2 linked regions of the Homo sapiens genome follow. The protein of the gene in region 1 interacts with the protein of each later gene in a pairwise test. Each region holds a gene or a part of one and is shown in the gene's direction. Other genes may lie near its edges.

Region 1 (2,560 bases):
GGTGACAGCGAGACTCTGGGGAAAAGGATGCTTAGTAGAATGCTTAGTGCTGAGAAATGACATGGTGAATTGACTGTCTTTCAGGTGTCTGCAGTGCTGTGTGATGATGACATCATGCTGACCATTAAGCCAGGGGAGCATGGGTCCACATACGGTGGCAATCCACTAGGCTGCCGAGTGGCCATCGCAGCCCTTGAGGTAAAGACTGATACAGCCACACAGTGTCTATTCTTTAAAGCAATGTTGAAGTGATTTTTAATTTGGGCCCACTGGTATAATAAAAAATTCAATAAGAATGCCAAATATTAGAAAACATGAAGTATAGAGGAAAAATTTTAGGAACAAGATATTCTCAAAAAGTAATTTAAACTTGGCCTAGTAGACTGGATTTCCTCCGTGGGCTTCCTGAGTTCACAGTCACCTGGCGCTTTGAGTTCTTCGGCCCTGGCTGGCCCTCATAGAACTCTCAACTGTGACCCACCTACCAGACCCGTCTTTTTGCTTAGCAAGCAAGTCTTCTTTCAAGTGTGGATTTATAATGTTTTCAGACTGATTTTTTAAGTGCCTGCTGAAGGTATACAATTATTATGTAATCTCTGAGGACAGATCTTTGTGAGGGGGGAAGAAACTATTGCAGTTTAGGAATTACATTTCGTCCATTGATGTATTCAATTAATGACAGTATGTGAGTTGCATTAAATAAACTTTAATCCTTATTTTGCCATGAATGATTGGCAATAGATTTGTGATGAAAGCAAGACTCTGAGCTAGTGTATGTTTAATTAGAAACTAATACAGGCTTTGAAAAATAGCAATGAAAGTTAAGTTCCTCTGGTATTTTATCTAGTCATGTTTTTCCTGTGTTTACAGTCCCCGTTGTCCTCCAAAAAACAAAAAAAGGACAGTCTTAATATTTGTATAATTTTTCTTTAAACGTAGGTTTTAGAAGAAGAAAACCTTGCTGAAAATGCAGACAAATTGGGCATTATCTTGAGAAATGAACTCATGAAGCTACCTTCTGATGTTGTAACTGCCGTAAGAGGAAAAGGATTATTAAACGCTATTGTCATTAAAGAAACCAAAGGTATGGAGATAAAACATTTACTCAAGATAATTTTTTAAGGAAGACCTAAAATACACTTGGTATTTAATTTAATTAATTTATTTATTTTTCGAGACGGAGTCTTGCTCTGTCTCCTAGGCTGCAGTGCCGTGGCGCAATCTTGGCTCACTGCACTCTGCCTCCTGGGTTCAAGCAATTCTCTGCCTCAGCCTCCTGAGTAGCTGGGATTACAGGCGCCTGTCACCACGCCCAGCTAATCTTTATATTTTTAATAGAGATGGGGTTTCATAATGTTGGCCAGGCTGATCTCAAACTCCTGACCTCGTGATCCACCTGCGTTGGCCTCCCAAAGTGTTGGGATTATAGGCGTGAGCCCACCGCGCCCGGCCACACTTTTTTTTTTTTTTTTTTTTTAAGATGGAGTCTTGCTCTGTTGCCAGGCTGGAGTGCAATGGCGCCATTTTGGCTGACTGCAACTTCCGATGCCCCGGTTCAAGCGATTCTCCTGCCTCAGCCTCCCGAGTAGCTGGTATTACAGGCACGTGCCAACACGCCCAGCTAATTTTTGTATTTTTGGTAGAGATGGGGTTTCACCATGTTGGCCAGGGTGGTCTCGATCTCCTGACCTCGTGATCCGCCTGCCTCAGCCTCTGAAAGTGCTGAGATGACAGGCATGAGCCACTGCTCCTGGCCACACTTGGTATTTTAATTGGGTGTTGGGATGTTCTGTTTGAAACTGCTGACTGACATAATGACCAAACCTTTTAGACAGATTATTGTCTGATTTATAATTATATTAAGAGTATAAAAAATATAGCTCTTTTCTAAATGAAGGCACATTTAACCAATTTGACCCTTGTTCCTTTAAGACACTTATTTTTCTGCCTTAAATTAGTCATGCAGTATTTAGAGAGTTCAAGTTTTTTTGTTGGTGAGTCTGGACTTGAAAGTGTCCTCTTTGCTATCCTTCCCTCCCTCACTTTGATGCTTTGTGTCAGTAGAGGTTATAGGAGCAGCAGAAATAATGATATGAATGACAGTTATGGGGTCAATAATAAAAATAATGCTGGCTGTCACTTAATTGGGTGTTTGATGTTTTAGTACATCCTTTGTAACCCTTAGGTGTTCCTTGCTGGATTTTCTTGTGATAACTCTTCCTTTTAAAGCAACGATTCCAACCTCCCAACCTTGGCTGCACTTAAAGAATCACCTGAGGGGCCGGGCGCGGTGTCTTATGCCTGTAATCCCAGCACTTTGGGAGGCCGAGACGGGTGGATCACGAGGTTAGGAGATCGAGACCATCCTGGCTAACACAGTGAAACCCCATCTCTACTAAAAATACAAAAAAATAGCCAGGCGAGGTGGTGGGTGCCTGTAGTCCCAGCTACTCAGGAGGCTGAGGCAGGAGAATCGCTTGAACCTGGGAGGTGGAGCTTGCAGTGAGCTGAGATTGCGCCGCTGCACTCCAGCCTGGGCGGCAGAGTGAGACTCCGTCTC
Region 2 (3,500 bases), on another chromosome or scaffold:
TGTAAAACCATATTTCAGCGATTACACATACCAAATGCTGTGGCAAGTGCACGGAACCCTGCCCAGGGTCTGACACCGAGTGTTTCCCCATAAGTGTGGGCTCCTTCTCTCCTGTGTTTGGCTGACCCAGCAGTTTAGGGAGCCAACTTGGCAAGACCATGGGCCAGCATGGCAAACCAGTGACCAACCAGCATTTGAGGGGGGAGGAGCATCTTGGAGAGCTTCTCATTTTAAATTGTCTTCAATCCCAAGTGCCAGACAAACTGCTCTACCCAAGGAGCACCTGCTCCACACCAGCCAACTGACCCACAACCAGCCAATCAAACAGCCAACCAATCAACCAACCAGCCAACTGACTAGCCAACCAAGCAACCAATCAACCAACCAATTAACCAACCAACTGTCTAACCAACCAACCAATTAGCCAACCAGCCAACCAACCAACCAACCAACCAACCAGCCAACCAGCCAACCAAACAGCTAACCAATCAACAAACCAGTCAACTGACTAGCCAACCAACCAAACAACCAACGAACCAGCCAACCAAACAGCCAACCAATCAACCAACCAGCCAACTGACTAGCCAACCACCCAGCCAACCAGTTAACCAACCAACCAGCCAGCCAACCAACCAACCAACCAATCGGTTAGCCAACTAACCAACCAGCCAACCAGCCAACCAACCAACCAACCAGTTAACCAACAAATCAACCAACCAACCAACCAACCAACCAACTGGGAGTTACTCCTGAGAAGAAATATAGTTGGAAAAAACCTCAGTTGACAAGTTCAAGAATGATCAGAAAGTATAGGATTGGGGTAGAAAGACTTTAAAAAAAAAATTAAGTGCAAATTTAAAGCCACAATAATAAAGTTTACAAATGTCACTCACCTCAAAAAAGGAAACTTGACTTATAGCTGTTAGAGATGTGCCTCAGCAGGTGACTTTTCTCTGAATTACCTTCTCTATTTGTGCAGGGTCCCTGTGGTGGCATTACAAAATGCTGGGCCGAGCCTCTTAACAGGTTTTTTAAGTAGATTGGGACTTTAAAAAATTTTGCTCACCGTCCTCTTGGTGCAAAATTTAGTGTCTTTTGCAACTTAACTGTTCTCTTTTATTTTTGAAATTTTTCTGCAAAATATGTAATATATTTTTCTCACCATGACACCCTGGAGATCCTCTGACATGGCCAAGAGAGGAGGGATGTAATAATTTTGTCATGAAGTTTTGTTGGGAAGAAACCAAATGATGTACCTGTTTCAGCTGAGGTCTCTATGCCCCAGGGCTGTGCTGGAACCCCCTCATAGTAGCTCACAAAAACCCATTCTGTGCATCTCTTCCCAGCTCCATGTGTAGCTTGAAATTGGCCGCGGTGTGAGTATTTACACCACAGAACCTGGCAAATGTTACAAATCCAGGCACATCACTGCCCCTTAAGACCCAGACAAATCCCTCTAGGTATTTGCACATCCTCATGGTTAATTTAGGTTCAGGGACCTGAAGTATTTTTTACTGAATTATCTCAATTTGGGGATCTTCATCTCTCTTGTTCACATTGTTCCTGTCACACATCACATCATGGGACCTAGTCCTCTTCCTTAATTGTTAGCAGTTGCCACCTTCCCTCTCTCCATGAATTTTTGGTAAGCCTGCTCTTTTCTGAATGACTTACCCACTTTTTGAAATTGTGCCATGCAGCTTTTCGTGCTGCCTTCCCTGTCCTCAGCTGCTGCTCAGGTGCCAACCTTCCATCCTCAGGCTGGTGCTCGCGCCCTGGGGACATGCACTGTCCTTTGTACAGCTCTTCGTTCATCTCACAAAGTGCCCAGGACATTGTAGGTGCTGAGTAAATAATGGGATGATTGAGGAAATAAATATGTAGAAGTTCCTTCTGCAGATAAATTTTGGGGTTATTCACATAAACAAATATTACTTGAATAATTAGCATTTTCTTAGCCTATTGGGTATTCTTTATCTTCATGTGGAAGTGGGTCCAGTTTTTGTGTAAGCCAGAAGCTTATGTAAGTTTTGAGAACCTCTTTAAAAAAAAGAAAATATAAAGTTGGTATAAAAGTGAATTTTCATTTGCAATGATAAATCAAAATAAGTTAAAAATTTAAAAATACCACAAACATCACAGAATCTAAGTAGCCTGAGTTTTAATGTCTGACATACTTCTAGAATAGCTTTTCTCTACCTTTGTTAGCTAATACTCTTTGAATGCTTCTCCATATGGCAACCATTTTGTAATGTTTTCTATAGAGAGAATAGAAATATAATTCCTTCTTTTCTCTTTGATCAACAAATTGATCAACATTTGCTTTTTATTATTCATAGTCTCAAAACATATCATTTAGCTTAATGACTTGGTGTAATATGCACGTTTTTAAGAGCAGTCACCTTTGGGAGACCTCTATTAAGTTTCTTTCCTAAGTGAGCTGTAAGATTTGAGGACGTTTTGAGTTTTCTAGTGCAGGGATTCATACTGTGGTTGACAAAAGTAGTTTGCAGTTGTCCACATCATGGAGTGGTATTATGAATTTTATGATATCCTTGCCAATTTCAGTACTGCCTACCAAGCCTATAAGGACTTAGCAGAAGCCGTATGGAGGTGAGGAGGTGAGGGAAGAGTTCAAACAGAGGCATGGCACCAGCGGATGGAGCTGGTGTGCAGCTGGGGTTAGAGTGGCATGTTGGAGTCAGATGATTGGGTGGGAGATAGACTGAAATGCTGCCAGGTGGCTGAGGATAGATGGTCAAGCCCTGGAGTTGTTGCTGGATCTCTAAACATTTGCAAGGTAAATGAAGTGTGGTGTTAGGATCACTGGCAATGGGTCAGACAACCTTGGTTTGTCTCCCTCCTCGTTGCATCTTCGTGGTGCCTCTGACTAACCTGTGAAATGTGCTTGTCAGTACATGCAGGTGGCTGTGGCCCACATCCATACACCTCACTCTGTACCCCGTGAACTCCTGACTCAGCCCTCTCTTAGCCCACTGTCCACCGTGGCTCAGCACCTATGCCATCTGGCACAAAAGGAAGGGGTGGAGGGATGTCAGAGTGGAAACAGATAGCAGCCTTGGTCGGTGCTGTTAAAAATCTCTCTTCTGCAGGATTTCCTGAGCAGAAGGGGCCTGTGTGTGCATGGGCTTCATTTGCTTCACAACACATCTGCCTTTGCCATGGTTAACAATTTGAAGACATGGTACAGGGCATCGATCCCTTCTTCTCACCTGGGCTTGCCTTTGTGTTGTTCCTTTCAGGAGAGTGGGCAAATGACCTGCGGCACGGCCATGGCGTATACTACTACATCAATAATGACACCTACACTGGAGAGTGGTTTGCTCATCAAAGGTTCGGTTTCTATCTTGGGTCTTAACGGGATTTGCTTATGTAATGAGAACATGATGTCTGCAGATTGTTTACACTTACTGAGGAACAGAATCATAACAAAAGCCCAGTTACCAACTCTGCCAGGCAGGTCCAATCTTTCTATGGCT

The links. The genes of interacting proteins can lie anywhere in the genome.
Region 2: the proteins of OAT (region 1) and RSPH1 interact in a two-hybrid assay, tested with the Homo sapiens proteins (one large-scale study listed by BioGRID and IntAct).

What each region holds. Positions count from the first base shown.
Region 1 is NC_000010.11:124,399,364-124,401,923, reverse strand, and holds part of OAT (ornithine aminotransferase, mitochondrial isoform 1 precursor), read left to right. Parts: intron 1-84; coding exon 85-198; intron 199-939; coding exon 940-1,084; intron 1,085-2,560. UniProt on the Homo sapiens protein: Catalyzes the reversible interconversion of L-ornithine and 2-oxoglutarate to L-glutamate semialdehyde and L-glutamate.
Region 2 is NC_000021.9:42,486,225-42,489,724, reverse strand, and holds part of RSPH1 (radial spoke head 1 homolog), read left to right. Parts: intron 1-3,263; coding exon 3,264-3,354; intron 3,355-3,500.